Regions from separate parts of the Homo sapiens genome. Here region 2 is linked to region 1. The links come from fine-mapping of genetic effects on gene expression. Tissue or cell type: monocytes after LPS. Region 1 holds a variant in brackets; the other region holds the start of a gene. All regions are shown on one strand. Distances are between the middles of the regions. Region 1 overlaps SETD5 (SET domain containing 5). Region 2 holds the start of THUMPD3-AS1 (THUMPD3 antisense RNA 1).

Region 1 (11,288 bases):
GGTATATGGTTTTAATTATATTTTGTATAAGAAAGCAGTTTATACCAGTTGTATTCCTAACTAAAAAGTACTATTTTATCAGTTTCCTGGGACTAATTTATTATAAGTTAATTAATGACATGAGCATTTTGGCCCAAATACAGTTGAAATGTTCATTGAAACTGGATCAAAGATGAGCATATGTGTCAAGGCTTTAAAATCATTTTTCATATTAAGATTTCCAGAGAAAGTTTTTGTAATATATAAGTTAAATATTTTTAATGCTTTAGATGACAGGAACTGTTGAAGGTCCTGGATCTCATAACAAGCCACTAGCTAGCTGATCCAAAGACATTTGGCCCCATGGGCTTCTAGGAAGACAAATGTGCTTACCATTTCAAAGATTTTATTTTGCTCAGTAACCTACTAGACATATATTAGTGTTTGTTTGAGTTGGTCGTTGTCTTCCATTGCTGTTATTTTATTATTATTATTTTTTTAATTTTAGAGACAGGATCTCCTTGTCACCCAGGCTGGAGTGCAGTGGCACAGTCATAGCTCACTGCAGTCTCAACTCTTAATTAGGCTCAAGGGATCGGGATCCTCCCACCTCAGCCTCTTAAATAGCTTGGACTACAGGTATGCACCACCACTCCTGGCTGTCTTATTGTGTTGCCCAGGGTGGCCTCAAAACTCCTGGCCTCAAGTGATTCTCCTAAGTCAGCCTCCCAAAGCGCTAGGATACAGGTGTGAGCCACCCTGCCCAGCCCCATTGCTGTTGAACTTTTTTTTTTTTTTAAAGACAGGCTCTGGTTCTGTTGCCCAGGCTGGAGTGCAGCAGCGCAATCTCAGTTCACTGCAAGCCACCCACCGAGCTCAAGCCATCCTCCCACCTCAGCCTCCTGAGTAGCTGGGACTATAGGTGTGCACCACCATGCCTGGCTACTTTCTTTGTAATTTTTTTGTGGTTCAAATAGGAATCTTCCACGTGCATCCAAAATATTTTTGGTTTGTGACACTCAGTGTTATTATTGACTCATTTTTCCATTGGAAGGTGTGCCTCAGAGTGGGTGAGCCTTTTTGCCCTCAGTCTTCTGTCAGCACTCTAAGACTCCAAGTACTCTAAGAGATTGCTCACTAAAAATAAGAACAGCTGGCCATCTACCTCAAATGTGAGCCGTCACTTTTGTGATATAATCAGTCCTTATCTTTAGTACACAGATTTATGGAATATCACACTCACTGTCTGCCTGCTTTGGGGTGTTTCTCCTGTGTCATTCATTTTTGTATATTGGCATATAGCAAATATAGGAATGCTGTGTCGCAGCTGTGGGTCATGTATGTACTTGCAGTTAGCTCTTGCTCCCAAGAATGCAAGAAATTTATCAACAAACTCGTGTCATAAAAATAGTTTACAGTGATTTTTTTCTTAAAATATTTCAATGATTAAGACTTTTTTTAATAACCACAAGTGTATAATTGTAAAACCTAAGCATTACTCAGCAAATCTAGCAATTGTTGAATTGCATAAGCTTCTTGTTCATTGGAACTTTTGCTAAAGAATTATGACCTTTGATTTCTTATCACCATGACCTATCATTATGATAAACATGCCCCTCTTATGTATCCTTATACCCATTATAAGGATAAACAAGGGATAGCTCCACCCACCAGATGTCATAGACACAACTGGTATTTTGGGGATTTTGCTGTAGACTAATCCTGGAAGGAAGAGAGGTTATAGATAAAATAAGATTGGCCATGAATTGATTGTTGATTAAAGCTGGGTAGGGAACATTGGGTTTTCTCTGGTTTTATATTTATTTGAAGTTTTTCACCATAAAGTTTTTTTTTTTTAAGATAAAAAATAAAAGCATGAATAGTGTAAACAAAGTTTTGAAGGAGAAGGAAACAGGTTAGTAGCTAATTAACAAAAATGTTCTTGTTCCATTCAGGCACAGGAGTTTGGACTAGCCCAATAAGCATTAAGGAAACCATTATTTGTAGATTTCAGATAATGCAATGATAGTAACCAAAGTTATGCTCTAGAAGGGATAACATCATGGAAGAATATAGAGTAGATTGGAGGGTTCACACCCCAGAGGTAGTGAGACCAGTTCACTGCTATTATATAATGCTACCTTGAAATCATAGGGAGGCGACTGATGTGGTTTGCTAAAAGTCTCCAAAAATTTCAAAGGAGAATAGCTCTTCAGTCAGGTGCTAGTGCCAGCACAACAAAAAAGAGGGTTTTTTCCCTCATTTGGCCAGGGCATGGATTTGGACCATGTGGGTGTCATAATGGAGTATACCAAGTGATTTTGTTCCTATGATGAAAGTGAAGTCCATATTTTGTCTCCTGTCTTTTAGTAAATCAGTATAGATAAGTCTTTTTTTTTTTTTTCCCCCCGAGACGGAGTCTCGCTCTATCGCCCAGGCTGGAGTGCAGTGGCGTGATCTCCACTCACTGCGAGCTCCGCCTCCCGGGTTCACGCCATTCTCCTGCCTCAGCCTCCCAAGTAGCTGAGACTACAGGCGCCCACCACCATGCCCAGCTAATTTTTCGTATTTTTAGTAGAGACGGGGTTTCACCATGTTAGCCAGGATGGTCTCGATCTCCTGACCTCGTGATCCGCCCGCCTCGGCCTCCCAAAGTGCTGGGATTATAGGCGGGATCCACTGCGCCTGGCCAAGTCTTTTTTTTTTTTTAATTATTTTATTCTTTATTTTTTTCCCCACATATTCTAAAATAAGTCTCTTACAGTGTCTAGGTTTCTTTCCAAAGGTGATTAAAAATGAAGCATCATATTTTAAACTTCTGAGGCAGAACTGCTAGAACAAGAGTTTTGTTTTTTTTTTTTTTTTGAGACGGAGTCTTGCTCTGTCGCACAGGCTGGAGTGCAGTGGCGCGATCTCGGCTCACTGCAGGCTCCGCCTCCCGGGTTCACGCCATTCTCCTGCCTCAGCCTCCCGAATAGCTGGGACTACAGGCGCCTGCCACCGCTCCCGGCTAATTTTTTTTTTTTTTGTATTTTTAGTAGAGACGGAGTTTCACCGTGTTAGCCACGATGGTCTCGATCTCCTGACCTTGTGATCCTCCCGCCTCGGCTTCCCAAAGTGCTAGAACAGAGTTTTGATAATTTGTTTGAAACGAAGCACTCAAATCTTCTAGTTTATTTGCATTTGCAGTCAGACCTCTACAGATGCCAGCTAGATTACAGATGGCTAGCATAAGTTTTTTTCATTACAGAAAGAAGAAATTTAGAGCTTAGTGCGGTCTATTAAAAGAATTAAAGGTTATGTCAAAGGACAACTATAAGAAAGTACTTTGGTTCTGAATATTGCTTCAGCTAGGGTTTATTTTGAAGCTCCTAGCCCAAATTTGTAGAAATGCAACTAAGATCTAATATTTAGTGTGTAAGAACTTTACAGGACATCCAGTCAGTAGTAGTCTTAAAAGTGAATCACATAGGCTGAAGCAGGCAGATCACCTGAGCCCAGGAGTTCAAGACCACCCTGGCCAACATGGTGAAACCCCGTCTCTACTAAAAATACAATAATCAGCTGGGTGTGGTGGTGGGCACCTATAATCCCAGCTACTCAGGAGGCTGAGACAAGAGAATTGCTTGAACCCGGGAGGTGGAGGTTGCAGTGAGCTGAGATCCTGCCATTGCACTCCAGCCTGAGCAACAAGAGCGAAACTCCGTCTCAAAAAAAAAAAAATGTGAATCACATACATAAACATTGGGAATTTGCAGATAACTTTCATTTTAGGGTTTCTAGAGCGCAGTGGTGTAATCTTGGCTCACTGCAACCTCCACCTCCTGGATTCAAGCGATTCTCCTGCCTCAGCCTCCCAAGTAGCTGGGATTACAGGTGTCCACCACTATGCCTGGCTGATTTTTGTATTTTTAGTAGAGACGGGGTTTCATCATCTTGGCCAGGCTGGTCTCAAACTCCTGACCTCAGGTGATCCACCCGCCTTGGCCTCCCAAAGTGCTGGGATTGCAGGCATGAGCCACCACACCCGGCCCACTTACAGGATTTTTCTCCCCCTTCATGGTTGTATAAATGCAGTACTTGGCACATAGGCAAACCTGAACAGTTTGCAAGTTGCCTACCCTTTTCTACTTTGGATAAAATAAACCTCTTAAAATAGCACTTAACATAGTAATATATGTATATTAATAGTAGTTACTTCATGTTTGTTGAATGAATGAATGAAAAAAGTAGCAAATCTACATAATATAAATCCCAAGACAGCCAGGAATTTTATCTGGACCTAATTGTCTTACATAGCACCAATTGGTACTTAATAAAAACAAGGCTGGGCATGGCAGTATGCGTCTGTGGTCCCAGCTACTTGGGAGGCTAAGGTGAGAGGATCGCTTGAGCCCAGGAGGTTGAGGTTGCGGTGAGCTGTGATTGCACCAAAGCACTCCAACCTGAGTGACAGACCCTGTCTCAAAAATAAAAATAAAAACAATTAGTTATAACTCAGATGTTGCTATCTAAGGTAAGTAGTAATTACTATAATAAACAAGCTATATATTAACATCTTAATTTTCTTTCCTCTGAACTTTACTACTGTAGGTGTGTAGTGAACTTCATACAAGTTAATCTTTTTGTAGCTCTATTTCTTCATTTCTGTTTGTTCATCGGTTGGAGAAATTTTGCTTAAATTAATGAAAGTAAAAATACAGATATTAATGGCTCATAAATGTGCACAACCCACTTCATCTATAGTAAGTAAAAGTGGCTCCCATTTTGGGGTTTGAAAATGAAGAAGATCTGAATTCACAGAGAGGAGGCACGTGTAGAGATATGAGAAGTTCTTTTCCTACTCTACTTTGGTACATTGGTCTCTAACACATGTTCTGAGCCTCAGAACACAGTAGAACAGAACCTTCAGAAAGTGTTGAGAGTATAACTCTTTAAAGAGGTTTAGTCAGTCTAAATTATTTGAGGGCATCATCTTTATTTGGTACTTAGAAGTCTAAAATCTTCCTGATTGTTGTTAAGGTTACAAAGAGTCTGTGTATTGTTGGTTAGTTGAGCAGTAAATACCTTTTTATCATTGTTAAATGGGTTGTAAATAAAATATTTTTCTTCAGTGTTAAAATAATTTATGATCACAATATTTAGATAATAATAATAATAATTCTGTTATTTATGATATGTAGTCTTATCCTACTGCCACTCCCCTCTTCTGCTCCACATACTACTAAGTATGACTTGGTCTCTATAATACGCACTAATTATGAAGTTTTTTACGGAGAAGGAAATTCTTAATATAGACTAGGATTTTTTTTCAGTTGTCTTTTAATGGCCTTTTATTCTAGTAAACTTAGATTTCTTATAGACATCGGTTTATTGTGCCGAGCTCAGTAGCTCCTAGAGGGAGTATAAATTTAGGCAAAGGAATCAAGGAATAAACTGGTATTGTAGAAGAGATGGGAGAAAAGGAAATTTTTATTTTTGCTTTAAATTACTAAATCATGATGTTTCCTGTCTCTCAGTGCTTACCCCAATCAGTGTTTCTCTCTTTTCTTTTTTCCTTTCAGTCCCGAACCCCTAAAATTCTTTGCTTGCATTAACTTGCTTCAGATTATAAGCCTAATTTTACTGTTCCAAATACATGAACTTTTCACTGTATCTCCAAGTGCTCTTTTAGAGTTCATCTCTTTGTTTTCCAGTAACTCATATTTGTTTCTTCTTATGCTTAACACTTCTCTCTC[A/ATT]TTTTTTTTTTTCATGTTTCTCACATTTTTTCTTTCCACATTATCTGCTGTAGCAAACTTGAAATATATGCTTTTGGAGAAGAGTAAAAACAGTGTTTAGCCATATTCAGGTTATTAGCAGCAGCTCCTCTTTCTTCACATATACTTAAAGGGACCAGAAAGTTATTTAAGCTCTTACTTGCTACAAATGCTGTTCCATGTGCTCCTATGAGTCAGCACAACAGGTATTTTTTTTTTTTTTATTGTACAGATGAGAAAACTGAGACTTTGAGACATTCTATGAATTGCCTGAGCTAGTTGGCAGCAGTGCCAGGATTCATAGAAATTTGGAGCAGGAAGACAACACAATGAAGATTTTACTTTGAGGAATTTAGGGTTCATCTATGTAAAGTGATTTTTCTGAGGTCACTAATTATGTTGTAGGCTAGAACTCAAGTCTCCTAACTCCTAATATAGTGCCTTTTTTTTCTTTTCTTTTTTTATTTTTTTAGGAGATGGGTCTCACTATGTTGCCCAGGCTGGTCTTAAACTCCTGGGCTCAAGCAATCCTCCTGCCTCAGCCTCCCAAAGTGCTAGGATTACAGGTGCAAGCCACCGCACCTGGCCTCTAAGAGTGCTTTTTCCTAGCATACTTTTCTTCTCCTAAGGTAAAAGGCTGTTTGTCATGGTACAGCTACGGTGATTTTACTTGAGATATTTGACTTTGAGATGGAGATGAAGATAAGTATATAATGCAGCTGCCACATTCATTCTCATACAAGGTAAAGTCATTCAAAAGATAAATCGAAGAACTATAGATGTATTTAAGAAGAAATTCAGCCTATATGTAACAACAAAATTTTGAATAATCAAGTTCAGAAATTGGATTTTTAAAAACTTATTAGCTACTTTAACCCTTTTGAAATATTCCCAAAAAGTGTTTTCTCTTCCTGAGTTAAATTTATTCATTTATTGACCTATTAAAGATTTTTTTAGTGCTTCAGAGCTATTCTGTATATCTGTTCATTTTCGTTATTTAGTAGTATATAGAAGTAATAGATTGGGCTGAATAGATTTATTTCAGGATATATCTTAGATATTTGTGTTTTTTCATGAATCCCAGTTTAAGGGTTATTGCTTTCAAAAGGAAGAAATTTGGTTAGTCATGACTTTTGGCTAGTTGAAGTTTAGAGAAGTGCTTTATACAGGATCTTTTATTTAGTGAGAAAAAAATAACTTTTTATAATTTTATAATACTGTGTGAAAAACCTGATACCAAAACTTCTGAAAAAGAAACCAGGCCTAGGAGATGAGGATTCTAGGGAAGATTATTAAATTGAGGATATTTTTAAGTTAGATTCTAAATTAGTAAATCGTGGCTAATAAGATGAAAATAATCTGATCCTTTAGTAAGATCTGAAGTAATATTGTTGCCCTGCAAAAAAGTGGTTGTTATCAGCATACCTTATATGTCAGCCTAAGCAAGATTAGATTTTCTCTTTTCTCTGATAGATGCCAATATTTAACATTGACTTTTATCTACTTTCAAAAATATCTATGAAATATACTTTCTGTCTCTGAATTAGAGTGTATGTATATTTGTGTTTACTTGAAATGTTATAGCTGGATGATAGATTTCAGAGCAGTTTTTATGCTTAGGGAAGCCACTGCCTCCCAAAAAGGTTTTCTTATGAGAATGAGGAAAATAAGTATAAATTTTCATATTTATGTTATTACTATTGATGTGCTTGGATAATTGTATTTATAAAAGTAAAAAATGTTCAGTATTTTATCTGAAATTTAATAATGGATATTGTACAGCCTAAGGAATTAAAAGAAAAAGGACCCTTTGAGAAAATGGCTTGTTCTTATGTATCTTAATATATACTGTGTTCACTTTATGTTTTGTCAGACACTGAAATTGAGGAAGAGAGATTTTGGCGTTCTGTTGGTTTATGGAGAGAGTTGATCAGAGATTGCTCCTTGGCTGAGTTGCTGTCTGCATAGGCTGTTAACAATTGTTTCTCTGGCAGCAGATCTTGTTCATCAGGATTGCATCATTTCTGGGAGAATGGCCAAGGTCCACAGCCTCAATACAAAGACTGTCTGAAGCATATGAGGCCTGTTCTCTTTCTGAAGCGGCACTCCTCTTCCTGCCAGTCCTCTTCACAGGATTACTGAAGCAGACTTGTTCTGAATTTCTTTCGTTGGATTGGTTGTTTATTGGACTTTTGTCTGCCAGCTGCTTCCGCCTCACCTGTCTGATGCAATTTCTTCTTCTGAAATCTGTTGGAATTGTTCATAAAACACTTTTTGTTTGTCTTCTCTGTGAGTGACCAGGGAGATCATACAGGTCTTGTGCTTTCAGCAAGTCATATAGAGAAGAGACTGTCAGAATGATGATACAGAGACTGTTGGCCATTTCTGAAACCAATTAAAAAGATGGGGTAATTAAGAAACATTTCTGGCATGTTCTATTTAACATCCTTTTCCCTAGAAACTGTATGTAAATGGCACCTCCTAAAGAGAGTACTCGGTACTACTGGAAGATACAGGCTGTGTCTGTTTCTGAATCCAAGAACTTACTAGTGTTCCTGTGGATTCTGATGGATTGTTCTGGAAATAGTTAAATTAATAATAAATTGAAACTGTGATGCATTCATTTACCCCCTACTGTACACTCACATCTATTTCGCTGTTTTCCTCCTTTCCTTTTTTTCTTTCTTATTTGCTATTGCTTCTTCCTTGATTTACTTTATTTCTTCCTTCCTTTTACTGTTACTTTGATACTTTTATTTCTCTAATTCTGGGTGTACTATTTTAAATCGTTTCTAAAAAATAGTTTATTTTCCAGTTTTTTAAAATTAGAAATCATAAAACATCAACATAAATGAAATGCATGCGTTCTAATGCTTGGTAACTGGAATCCTATGAATAGCTCTTTTCATGTTTATGATATGTTAATCTTTAAGGTGTTAATAACTCTGGCTAGCGTTAAATTTGACTTTTAGGAAAAAACACCAGAGACTTAAAGGATACTGATCATTTTCCCTTCCTTTTTGGAAGGTAGAAAATTAATTTAAGCGCCATTTTTTAAGCATGTTTCCATTTGACCGCAAATAGAACTGACTCCTTTTTATCACTCTTTTTTATAGTAGGACAAGAAACTAGATGGTGTGGAATGAAGGGAAAGAAAGGAGTAATAAATATGGACTTGTAATTTAATGGGTGATGATGGCCCCTTGTCTGGCTGGACAGTTGTCGGACATCGGGTTAAAGAAAGAACTCTGAATTTGAGAAGTGTTCAGTGAAGAAGGGAAGCACCTTTTAGGAGAGAGAAAAAGAAGGGATCCCTTGGAAAATGAGATAATTCTAATTTGAAGGAAGAGGAAAAATTAGCCAGTGACATAAGTATTTACCATTTAAGTCAAATAATTTCCTTCTCTACCATCTCGTTTCTGGCTTTATGGAAAAATAAAAAATTAAAGGGCAAAAAATTCAGTGCCGGATGGACGTAGGGTGGTAAACGAGATAGTATAGATGTAGGATGATAAACAAGACAGTATACAGAAACATAATATAGCTGTAGAATTCCATTCTGTGTGTTCATCAATGTTATTTCTTTCTGTACTAATTTTTGTCTCAACTTTTTCTAGGTCTTCAGAACTACTAGCAGATAATTTGGGGGGACTTCATATTCAGAAGTCTATATAAAGGTGACTGACCCAAGTAAATCCTTTTAATTTCTGTTTTATTTTTTGCATTTTAATGACTGCTGGAATCATGTTGTAGTAAATTGTGATTATAATTTACTTAGCAGATATTTCTGGAACTTCTCTACGTGTCAGTTATTGTTTTGGCCATTGAAACTACAGCAGTGGATAAAAATCCCTGTTCTCATAGAGTTTATATTCTGGTAGGAAAAAACAAACAAATTATAATAAGAAAATACTGCATTTAGATGATCTGTTAAATGTTCCTCGGTTAACATTTTAATAGCTACATTTTACAGAGTTACTTAGGGAAGGAACTATTCTTAGGGTAATATTTGAGAAATTTGGGATTATTAACAGAATTTGAATTAAGAAGCCTCATCATTATTAAAGCATTAGTTAGAATGAGATGGTCAAGCTAACCTATTATGGTTGCTTTCATCAGAAGAATGAAACAGTCATGTTAAACTAGACACAAGGAAAATGGAATAATTTTTATGAAATAGAAATTTATAGTTACCGACAATGTTTCTTTTTTTTTTTTTTTTTTTTTTTGAGACAGAGTATCATTCTTGTTGTCCATGTTGAAGTGCAATGGTACAGTCTTGACTCACTGCAACCTCCGGCTCCCGGGTTCAAGCGATTCTCTTGCCTCAGCCTCCCAAGTAGCTGGGATTACAGGCGTCCGCCATCGTGCCCGGCTAATTTTTTTGTATTTTTAGTAGAGACAGGGTTTCACCGTGTTAGCCAGGCTGGTCTTAAACTCCTGACCTCAGGTGATCCGCCCACCTCAGCCTCCCAAAGTGTTGGAATTACAAGCGTGAGCCACTGCACCGGGCTGACTTAATGTTTCTTAAGGATTCATCAACTATCCAAAATAGCTGGGTTGGTGTTTCATTAGTGAATGTAGCAATCATTTATTCACTCATTAAGATGTTATCTGAAGTAACTTTTCCATCTTTTCCTTTTAGTATATCTTTTAAAAATTGCTCTAGGAAAAATATCAACTATCATCTTGGGTTTATAACTTGTCTTTTATCTAGAAACTGTACTTTTTTTTTTTTTTTTTTTGGAGAAAGAGTTTCACTTTTGCTCAGGCTGGAGTGCAGTGGCCCTGTCTCAGCTCACTGCAGTCTCTGCTTCCCAGATTCAAACGATTCTCGTGCCTCAGCCTCCCAAGTAGCTGGGATCACAGGCATATGCCAACATGCCCAGCTAATTTTTGTATTTTTAGTAGAGATAGGGTTTCACCGTGAAACCATGCATTTTTTAAATGGGTGTACAGTCGTAATGGCTACAACAAAGGGTTTTTAATGATATTAAGTACGGTTTTTGGTTTAAGTCTTTTACTGAAAATATAAAACAATTCAGATTCCCTTTGCTGATCAGGGGAGGTACGGTGATAATCAGACTTTCATATGATTATCTGGTCAGACAGCTTTGGGGCTTTTCTTTTAATCTGAATTATACAGTAAGACTAATAGAAAGAGTAGTGACCAACAGCCCCCAGTATTTAACTGTCTTTTGGGTTTACTTGATGAGTGTTCTTGTTTTATCATTTACAGATTTTACTTCAATTTCCCAAAGGCTTAGAAGATGTACTGCCAAGGTCTCTGTTTGGATATACTGTTAGGGAAAGGAAACATACATGTGTAAGACTGGCCTAAAGGCAAAAAAGTTCATCAGTCCCTTTTTTTTTTTTTTTTTTTTTTTTTTTTTTTTTTTTTTTGGCAACAGGGACTCACTTTGTTGCCCAGGCTGAGTGCAGTGGCATGATCTCAGCTCACTGCAACCTCCACCTCCCAGGCTCAAGCAATCCTCCCACCTCAGCCTCTTGAGTTAGCTGGGACTACAGGTGCATGCCACCACACCAGATTTA
Region 2 (11,288 bases), 25 kb before region 1:
AAGGGTGAGGGTATCAAGGCTTCCTTGAGAAGTGATGTTTTGAGGCCATTCTTTCTTCTCAATAACTGGTATTTGGTTCCTGAATCCTTTAACTTCCTTACCATTGTCACTCCTAAGCCAAATCTCATTACGTCATGTCTAGACTACTGTTAAGAGAACCACTTAAGTGGTCTCTGCAGCCCTCAATTTATTGGTGTTATCTATGGGAAAATTGCTCAAACTCTAAGCCTTAGTTTCCTACCCTATAAAATGGGGTTTTATATACAAGGAACATACTAAATACACAGGTATACCTCAGAAACACGGCAGGCTCAATTCCAGAGCACTACAATAAAGCGAATCTCATGAATTTGTTGGTTTCCCAGTGCATAAATTATGGTTACACTATACCATAGTCTATTAAGAAGTGTACAATAGCATTATGTATAATTGATAAATACATCACTGCTAAAAAAATGCTAACAATCTTTTTGCTGGTGGAGGGTCTTACGCCAACGTTAACGATGGCTACTGACTCATCAGGGTGGTGGTGGTTGAAGATTACGATAGCTGTGGCAATTTCTTAAAAGACAATGAAGTTTGCCACACTGACATCCTTTCACAAGACTTCTCTGTAGCATGTGATGCTGTTTGATAGCATGATAGCATTTTACCCACAGTAGAACTTTTTTTTCCTTTTCCTTTTTTTTTTTTTTTAAACGCAAGGTCTCACTCTGTCACCCAGGCTGGAGTGCAGGGGCGCCATCTCGGCTTACTGCAACCTCCTCCTCCCTGGTTCAAGAGATTCTCCTGCCTCAGCTTCCCAAGTAGCTGGGACTACAGGTGTGCACCACACCTGGCTAATTTGGTAGAGGTGGGGTTTCACCATGTTGGCAAGGCTGGTCTTGAACTCCTGACCTCAAATGATCTACCAGTCTCGGCCTCCTAAAGTACTGGGATTGCAGGTGTGAGCCACCACACCCAGCCAGTGGAACTTATTTCAAAATTGAAGTCAACTCTCTCACACCCTGGCACTGCTTTATCAACCAGGTTTCTGTAATTCCTAAATCCTTTATTGGCATTTTAACAATGTTCACAGCAACTTCACCAGTAGATTCCATCTCGAGAAACCACTTTCTTTGCTCATCCCTAAAAAGCAACTCCTCATCCATTCAAATTTGATCATGAGATTGCAGCAATTCAGTCACATCTTCAATGCTTTACTTCCAGTTCTAGTTCTCTTCCTGTTTCCACACCTGCAGTACACAAAAAGCATTCAATAACTATTACTTCATTTCTTCTACCTATGTTTCCATTAGCTTTTGCCTATAGTACGCACTAGAGTATGTTACCATTATTTGTTATAAGTAGTACCTCATTATTACACTATTCGTAAGCAATACCTCAAGGTCTAAGATTAGATTTTAAATCAAGGTCAGTAAAAATAGAAAAGGCTGTGAAGACTGTTGACTGACTTTACCAGAATCCATACACTAGAGGTGAGATTAGTTAGGTGATGAAATAACCATTCTATAAACATGATCTGAAACTCTGTTACTGTTGTCAGCAGGAAAAGCCAATGTTACATATGTTTAAAAAAGAAAAAAAAAACCCAAAACCAGAAAACAAAAGGTGACAAAGTATCAAGACAAAAGGTCACTGATGACTGATCTCTAGGAAAAGCTGGAAAGCAGGATTATTAAATGTAACCACGACTAAGATAAAAATCAGAGACAGAAAAGTCTTTGTCACCAAGAAGATATACTCCATGAGAGAGCAGAAACAATTCATCAGGTTTAACCCTGCTCTAGATAAAATAAAACTATCTGATTCAATACTCACACTTCTCTAATAATCCAATACATTATCCCATCTCAAGAAGAGAGAGTCACAGATAAGAAAAAAAAGGCTTCTTGAGAAGTATGTGCTCTAATATAAACTAATATGCCACTAAGAAAGCAACCTGCAAAGTCCAGTACCAGACTTCTGGATTTGTGACCTAACAAGGTGCTCTACAATTAACCTAACAGTCAAACCAGAGTGTTGTAAAAGAGAATTATGTAATTATGCCAAACCTCCACTCACAAAAAATATATGGAAGTAACCTAAGTTTACATTTTGCAAATCTCACACACACACTAGCCCTGACAAAAGTTTCACCAGCTTTCTCATCCAAGTACAAGCGTGTAATATACTTAATAAATTTGTCTTATAAGGGTAAGAAATAGTATGTAACTACTTGAAAAGGAGATAGGTAGCTGGTTAATTTAAACAAAAAGCCCAAGGAAGTAAGGTGCAGGAAAAGGATAACTGCAATGATTAGTACAGGAAACCCAAAGAAGAACTGAATGGTGGGATAGATGTACTCAGAGACCATGAGGCATCAGTTTCCTCTATGAATAGAATATTAGGAGATGTAGGTTAAATGGGACCCTGAAGTCTCTCCCAAAAAGCCTTGTTTATATGTTTTCTGAGCTTAACTATTACTTGAGAATCAATTTCACGTATAAACCAACAAAACTAACATTTATTGAGCTTCCAGCTCTGTGCTTAGGCACTGAAAAATCACTTTCCTTAAGGATTGCAATTAAGCAGGAGAAACACAAATAAGGTGAACTTCTCTTGTTCGAAAGAATATATTTCAACATTCCTTTTAAAAGGAAAACCTGACCTGCAAGTTTCCAAAAATATTAATTACTATTCCTCTTTGCCTCTCAAAATTCCCATTCTGTTATTTTTTAGGAGGAGGAAAAAACAGTTCATTTGAGGAAAAATTGAGGGTCACATACTATACAATTGAGAAGAGTTTCTCTGAAACTGTAATCATTTTTGGCAGGTAAATAGGCATATCCGAGTCAGCAAATGAACTTGAAGATACTGAGTTATACTGCCTGCCCTGTGGGGTTCCACCTTCCCCAAAAGAATTCAGAATTTTTGGGTGATCTGAGAATCTACATTAAGACAACTGTCTCCACACACAGGAGGCCTGAAGATCGCTGACATAAGGGTCTTTTTAAAAAGTATATTTAATGGCCTAGGGCGGTGGCTCACACCTGTAATCCCAGGACTTTGGGAAGCTTAGGGCAGGAAGATCACTTGAGCCCAGGAGTTCTAACCTGTGCAGCACAGCAAAAACCCATCTCTACAAAAAAAAAAACACAAAAAAATTAGCTGGGCATGGAAGCGTGTGCCTGTAGTTCCAGCTACTCAGGAGGCTGAGGCAGGAGGATCACTTGAGCCCAGGAAGTCAAGGCTGCGTGAGCCATGATCATGCCATTGCAATCCAGTATGTGACACTAAGACTCCGTCTCAAAAAAAAAAAAAAGATAATTAAAATGTGTAAGATACTGTATTAGCAATATAAAAAGCATTTGGTGTTAAAATGTTGGTATTATAATTCCTCAGGATAAAACTTACTTTGTGATTGTTTTCTATAACTCAAGATATGATGCTTAGAGCTCCTCCAATCAAGTGTTTCCAGGAAGTGAAAACTTGTAGGACAGAAATTTAGGCTGGGTTCATTTGTATCACACAGACCTATTCTTCATTCAAGTTCTGATATATTTAACTATGTAGCTCCTGTAACAGTTTAATGGAATCTCACCTCCCTAAAATTCATTATGCATTTTTTTTTGAAATCCAAACTCATTAACGCTTGCTTTCACTGTTGTCCAAGGCAGGCACATCTTTAAAAATGGTTTGTTGGACTTAGCTTTCAGCTAAATATATAATAAATAAAACAAAACAAGCAGTTAAATGAAATGTAATGGGCCAGAGAGCTTCAGCTTTTATTTCCTTACTGCTCAGTAAAAAGAGAAAACCATCAATGTCCACGTATTCTGTAATCCACAGAACAAGTCCGGGGCTACAGCTATACTGTCCACAGTTGCAATTCAAATTAGATAAAAAATAAAAATTCAGTTCTTTAGTCATACCAGCCACTTTTCCAATGCTCAAGATTAATAAAATGTCAAACCATAAAGACATTTACATGTCGCTCACTCCATTTACTTAAAGTTGGCTAGACATCAGAGTATACTAGGAGCTCAGGAGTACAAGACACTATTCCTTCAAAAAGCTCAGAATAGTTAAGGTAATTTAAATCAGCAATGACAACAACCCCAGAATTACTATGACCCACGCAGTACAAACTGCTCAGGAGTCAGAAGAAAACTGCTTTTTTAAAAGGGCAGTTTGGGTCATAGAACAACAGACCATGGAAGGCATGACCAAAGGGGAGATGACATTTGAATCTGCAGGATTAAAAGCAGCAAGGGTAGCATTCCAAAAAGAACCACCCCACAAAGATATATGACGTCTCTATGATTTGGGTAACTGCAATTCATTCCATGTGACTTCAGGAGAGAGGTCATATTTGTGTGTGTAGTATGTGGAAAATAGTGAAAAATGAAAAAGCTGTTAAATTGAGGAAAGTCTATCCAGGGACCTTATGCATCACATTCACGAGAACAGAATTCATCCTGTAAACCAGGGGTGTCCAATCTTTCGGCTTCCCTGGGCCACACTGCAAGAACTGTCTTGGGCCACATATAAAGGACAGCTGATGAGCAAAAAAAAAAAACAGACAACAACAACAAAAAAAACACCCCGCAAAAAAAACTCCTAAAACTTTAAGAAAGTTTACGAATTTGTGTTGGGTCGCATTCAAAGCTGTCCTGGGTCCCATGCGGCCCGCGGGTTAGACAACTTGCTGTAAACAGTACAAGCCAGTAATGGAGTTTCACCTGTCATTTTCATGCTCTATCTTCCTTTAGGACAATCATCCTAACAAGATGTAAGATGGATCAAAAGATAACACTAAAGACAGAGACAGCAATTTGGAAGCTATCACACAGGCATCTGAGATCAGTTACTAACTGGTAAGAACAGAAATGAGAGGTATTTAGAGGAAGAAAAAGGGAGATGTTGCCTAACCTCAGATCCAATTCTCTGTAAAGCAGTAGTCAAGATCACCTGGACTGTGAAGACGGTCAGGGACAGAATCCCAGCTAAGGAAAAAGGATAAAATGAAAATCAAGATAAACATTTAAGAACGTGAACTAGGGAGGAATAAAAGCACTGCTGGGTAAGAGTCAAGCCCCAGCTCAAGCCTTAATTTGTGGTGGAACCAATCTGTCTGGTTTCGCGAGACACCAGGCTACCCAAGATCAAGAGAGGGAGAAAGCTAGTGCTATGTCTGAATACTAGAGGAGCAAGTACAACAAATGGAAAATGGGATCAAGTATGAGTGAGAGTTGCTAAGATGCCTGGTAGGGATGCAAAGGGGTAGAGAGCCTGGGGAGAGAGGGTGAGGGAGGGAAGCACTGGTTTCTCAAGCAAAAGCTAAAATTTTTCTATTAAGATTTAACCTGATGCTACACTTTGGTGGTGCAGCAAGGGTCTCAAATGGTATAAAACTCAGGTGATCATGCTTTATGTCTGTCTCTAGAAAAATGCTCCAAAAATGATAAGTAGTGATAATCCGCAGTCTCGTTGCATAAAATCAGCCCCAGGTGAATGACTAAGCTCCATTTCCCTACCCCACCCTTATTACAATAACCTCGACACCAACTCTAGTCCGTGGGAAGATAAACTAATCGGAGTCGCCCCTCAAATCTTACAGCTGCTCACTCCCCTGCAGGGCAACGCCCAGGGACCAAGTTAGCCCCTTAAGCCTAGGCAAAAGAATCCCGCCCATAATCGAGAAGCGACTCGACATGGAGGCGATGACGAGATCACGCGAGGAGGAAAGGAGGGAGGGCTTCTTCCAGGCCCAGGGCGGTCCTTACAAGACGGGAGGCAGCAGAGAACTCCCATAAAGGTATTGCGGCACTCCCCTCCCCCTGCCCAGAAGGGTGCGGCCTTCTCTCCACCTCCTCCACCGCAGCTCCCTCAGGATTGCAGCTCGCGCCGGTTTTTGGAGAACAAGCGCCTCCCACCCACAAACCAGCCGGACCGACCCCCGCTCCTCCCCCACCCCCACGAGTGCCTGTAGCAGGTCGGGCTTGTCTCGCCCTTCAGGCGGTGGGAACCCGGGGCGGAGCCGCGGCCGCCGCCATCCAGAAGTCTCGGCCGGCAGCCCGCCCCCGCCTCCAGCGCGCGCTTCCTGCCACGTTGCGCAGGGGCGCGGGGCCAGACACTGCGGCGCTCGGCCTCGGGGAGGACCGTACCAACGCCCGCCTCCCCGCCACCCCCGCGCCCCGCGCAGTGGTTTCGCTCATGTGAGACTCGAGCCAGTAGCAAGGGCCCGGTCCCACAGCTTCGACAGCCAATCAGGTGTCGAAGACAAGCAGGCGGCGGGTAAACCGACTCCCCCGAAGGAAGGGGAGGGTGGGAGGACGCCCGCGCCAGAGCCGATTTCACTGACCCTCCCCTCCCGCCGCAGGAGGCCGGCCGCGCCCGCACACCCAGCATCTCTACACCCCACCTACCTACCCGCCCCACCCAGGGGGCAACGCGAGAGTCGCTAAGCGGCTGCGTACTCCCGACGGCGTAACTGACAGGAGCTTTACTCCAACCAGAATACGCCATTTGTGTTTTCACACACGGCGGGAGGAGAAACGGCCAATCGGCGACAAGAGGCTAGCCGGAAGCGCTCCTCCCTCTGCGAGAGCAATGGCTCCGTCCGGTTTCGAGCATTTTCCGCTCCCTTCTCCCTCCCCCTCCGGTTGCCGCAGGGCGGGCCTCCCTCCCGCCTGCATCCAGCCACCCCTTTCCCTCCCAACGTAACAAACATTATGTTCCCGACTTCCCACGGGAAAGGCAACCCCCGCAAGCCACCAGACGGCCCCCCTAGCCACCCATCCCCCCAGTGTACCGCACCTCCCCTCCCACCAGAGTTCCGCTCCCCTACCTAGCCGAGGCTCTCTGAGGAGCCGGAGCGCCGAAGCACAGCCTCTTCTCTAGGCGGCCCCGGCGGCTTCCGCTGATTGGCGGCGAGTGGGCCAATGGGTGCGGGGCGGTGGGCGGAGAGGCCAATGGCGCGGCGGGAGGGGGCGTGTCCCGGGTGCCCCTGGCGCCGGCGCTGGGAATCCCCGTGCGGTCAGTGGCGTTTCCGCTCGGGCAGCGGGCTGAGTGAGCTGCCGCCGCCGCCGCCGCCGCCGCCGCCGCCGCCGCTGCCGGGGGAGGGGCGGCCGCCGCCCGCCTGCGCTCAGAGACTCACGCAGCCCCAGTCCCGCCAGTCCGCCAACACAGTAGTGCCGGCCCCCCTCTTTCCCTGGCCCTGCCCCCCCTCCCCGCCTTTGGCTCGCTCCGCCTTTCTGCCCCCCACCCCCACCTCACGGGTACGGGCCATTCCCGGCCAGGAAACGCCGTGGCGCCGCGTTGGGCCTAACTCGAGTCCTGCCGCCTCCCGGGAGTGCCGTGCGCCGCAGCCCGGGCCCAGGCCCCGGCAGCGCCTGGGACAAGGTAAGGGTCCGACAGAAAAGAGACCGAACCTCACGATCGGGCCCCAGGGGAGGGAAGGGTCACCTCCTCCGTCTCCCCGCGCTCGCTCTCCTTGGGTCGTGGGCCTGGCCCTCCCCAAGCTCTTAGGAGGATGCTGCCACTTCTCACCCCCCTCGCCGCCTTGCACACACCGTTGCAACACCCCATTTTCCCAGGGAGAGAGATCCCCCTCTAATCTAGGCGACCCAACTCCCCCTTTCATGTTTTTCCTGGGTCAGGACGCTTCCCCTCCCCCAACGCCTCTTCACCCCCTTTCCTGGGAACTGCCTACTCCACGTTTACCTTTCCCTTGAGGAGAGGCCTCTTGCTGCCCTCCGCTCGAAATACACAGGCATACTTTTTTTCTCTCCCCGATCCCCCACTCCCTACCCCCGTTCTCGCGGCCTTGTGACAGACAACTCTGATCGCTCTGGGGGCCGCGATCTCCCCTCCGTAATCTTCCTGGACGCCTTCCCTCTCGTTTTCTGGCTTCCCACCTCAGATGGCTGCTTCCCAAAGGCATTACCTTCGCCACCCCCACCACACGTTCTCTGGCTCCCCGTGGCGTGTGCCACAGCGTGTCTGAGATAGCCTCGTTGAATGTGTAGGGTTCGAGCCTGGAGTTGAGCCAGATTGTGTCGTTTTACTTGCCTTGGGCGTGGAGAACGATCTTGTGAGAATATCTTCAAAGGCAGAAAAATATTCCCTTTATGAATTCTCTTTCCCTCTGCGTGTAAGTCGGGAATGTGAAGAGGAGTGTAGGAAAGAGCCCTGGTTCAAGTAGGTAAATCGCATGAGAGGGAAAGTTAAACTGTTGGGAAAGCCCCTTCTATGCTAATTGATTCTATAGAGTCCTTGCTTGTCTCACTTCTTGGGCGTCAGTGGTCTTTCTCTTGGATATGGATGCTGCAGTCAGCTCTGCTGGTCTGGGTCAGGGGTGCGTGTATGACCTGCATTTTCTGCTTTCTCATGTTACTTGTGCAATGTATTCACCGGTAACTCATTTCTTTCCCAGACCTCTGGGTTCCACTGGGCTTTGTCTATATTTAAGTTCATTTCTCCAGTTTCCTTCCTGCACATAGGTACTGAACGAATCCCCAAGTTCTGTGCTAATTACCTTCATCAGTTGACTAAACAAGTTTTTAGATGACATATTTGTGACCAAGGTCATATTTACATTTCTTTGTTGGACAGATGTTACATAGCTATACTTGTGATTGGGGAGGATCCAGCTGAGTGGAGTGTGCTGAGCTTTTTAGGAGAGTGTGTACTCCCTATTTGAAATTATTTTTTGGTTGTTAATTTTATATTATTAATGTTTTTAGGTCACAGAAAGTTCTAAGTGGTAATTTTAGATGTGTGGGATCTGAGCTAGGACTAAAGCAGAGAATACCCACGTAATCAGAGGTTTCTGGGCTCCATAGAGGACGTAGGGCTTTTTTTTTTCTATTGGATTTCTTCCAGTTTTCTCAGGATCATTAGTTCTCTTCTGTAGCCAAAAATTCTGGCCTGTTATGGGATTAGAGTCTTTAAGGTTTACTCAGACTGTCATTATGTGTAGAAAAATGAATTATGCCCTTTGGTAGGACATGACACAAGGCTCTGTTTCTAGCTGCAAATTTAAATTAGATTGTAGAGTGCTTGGGAAATTGGCTTTCAAAAGACCAAAGCTTAATCTTCACTCCTAAACTGCTGGCTTAATTAAAATGGATATTTAGAATTTGGTAAATGTTGATTTTTCTAATAAAAGGCCTTGGTTTAAAAGGGTGACCTTAGGATTGTTTCTTTCTTAAAAGCATAATTCCAGCCCTTCTGGCATGGAGCACTGGTCCAAAAAAAAAAAAAAAAAGTGTGTGTAAGGAGTGGGGGTGGGGTAAAGAGAAGGTTGTTCCTTTGGGTTGGATCACAGGGGTGAGTATACAAGGCAGCAGCAGCTGCTGGCTCTGGAGCTCTGGTTGCTACGTGAGAAGCTTGAGTAGTGCTGGCTGCTGTCTCCAGGGAAGGACAGCAGTGCAGCGTCCATTAATGCTGCTGGCTGCAGGGAGCAGCACTTAGGCGATGGCTGCTTCAGGACTAAGAAGAAACCTTGCTTTTCTGGGAATTTTCACTGCTGAGCTGGTTTGCTTTTTATTGGTGGGGAGATGGGAATTAGTAATTCATAATCTCCTACCCATTTATGGATATTGGCATCTGGAAACTGGATCATGGTTAAAGCCTTTCTTTTTTTGTTTGTTTGATTTGATTTTTGTTTTTTGGCAGATTTTTGTTTTTTATCTAGACATTTGTGCTTGGATAGGACTAAAAGTTCCATTAGAGTTTTAATTTTTCAATCAGTTTAAAAACCCAAGTAATAATTTTAAGAATCTTTCTGATAACCACAATAGGAAGAAAATAACAGGAATTTTTTCCTGCAGCTCACATATCATGCCTTCCTCCATCTCTTTAATCATAGAATCAATTCTTATTATTTTGTTATGTGTCTCCATCCTTTCGATTAGACCACATTTACCTTATAGACGATTTGCTAAACATTTTACTAAGCTTGAACTCTTAAACTCTAAAAAGGTGCCATTTTGGAGTGGTTTCTAAATAAATATTTTTAATTTGTATATTAGTAATAAACTTCTCCAGATTAGATATTTTCTTTGGAGTTTGACTTATAAGATTGATTCATTATATACATGTTGGATATAGCCTTCTGACATCACAAATATATGTCTTTGGCCATAATCCATCTGAAATGTAGGACAGACCAGAAGAAATATGCAGAAATCGAATAAGTCTAGTTCAGGATACTGAGAAGATGGCCTCTGAGCCCCTTAGGTGATCTCCCCTCCCCCACAACTCCTGAACATTAGGATGATCTCTGATTAAGCAAAACAGTCTGAGCGTGGAAAAACTTGAAGGAGAACCACCACCACCAATTATATGCAATACTGGACATATTCCTGTGTGCTGTTTTTCTTCCCCAAGACTCGTGTATCCTATACTTTTTTCTCTCAGAATTTTGATTTGTTCATTTTCGTGTAAATGTACTTAAATCTCACAAACATCTATAATTTGTAGTATCACTCTGGCATTTGTGGCAGAGAACCAAAAAGAATGGAAATGAGTTTTGTCATTCACAAATGTGGCTCACATTGTTTTCCCAGTAATAAAAGCAGACCAATGAAACAGAACCTTTAATGGATACTATTTTAGGAGGTTCCAATTCTTATTACTATCACATAGATAAGATGCAATAGCAGATAAATATGATTTCATGTATACTGGCTGTTTGACATACTTAGGGTTTAAGATAAAAATGTTTGTAGTTTTTTACTCTGTGGCTTAAGTTGCTATATAAAATAATTGCTTTTACACTCGAATTTCCTGTTGTTTGGAACCTTTTGTGCTCTTGATATTATCATTTTTTAGAGGATCATACAGGCCCTTTTCATAGAAGGATTTACTTAAGTTATACCCTTGAAAACTTTTTTATATCTTTTGATACTGTTTTGTGTCCAGGAACTGACTTTCTGAAATTATTCTGGCTTTTCTGGGGAGAATGACTATTTCATTTTTACCTTTGAATGGGGAAATAATAAAGTGCAAAGTACAGATTTGCAGATAATTACTTTTGCTTTATCCTCTCCATGTTGAAATAACTTATGAAAAATTAGGCCATAGTTAACAGCAGTCAATGACTATTGGATACATTTTATCAGAGGGGAACTGGATCATGAATAAAATAAAATTTTAAAAATAATTTTTGGCTGAACTCTGGTGATTCATCAGTTTAATTTGAAGTCAGAAGGTCTAGCAGTGAATTTTATTTATAAAAATTGTATTTCAAGTGTTGAAAACTGAAACTTCTTGACCAGTATATTTTGTTTGAGGCATCA

The links. PIP is the estimated chance that this variant, and not a neighbour inherited with it, causes the effect. A credible set is the group of variants that fine-mapping cannot tell apart.
Region 2: THUMPD3-AS1 starts here. The variant in region 1 is the best candidate, but not a certain one, in a credible set for the expression of THUMPD3-AS1 in monocytes after LPS (Quach 2016, PIP 0.75).

What each region holds. Positions count from the first base shown.
Region 1 is chr3:9,415,115-9,426,402 of GRCh38, forward strand. It overlaps SETD5 (SET domain containing 5), which reads left to right. Exons shown (of 23, transcript NM_001080517.3): 2 at 9,353-9,412. Among named protein-coding and RNA genes, the nearest start is that of SETD5, 23 kb to the left of the region's middle. The variant A/ATT (reference allele first, on the strand shown) is at 5,718.
Region 2 is chr3:9,390,592-9,401,879 of GRCh38, forward strand. THUMPD3-AS1 (THUMPD3 antisense RNA 1) reads right to left here and starts at 6,032. Exons shown (of 4, transcript NR_132781.1): 1 at 5,969-6,032. It overlaps SETD5 (SET domain containing 5), which reads left to right and starts at 7,024. Exons shown (of 23, transcript NM_001080517.3): 1 at 7,024-7,386. RefSeq lists a silencer at 5,922-7,231 and an enhancer at 7,842-7,891.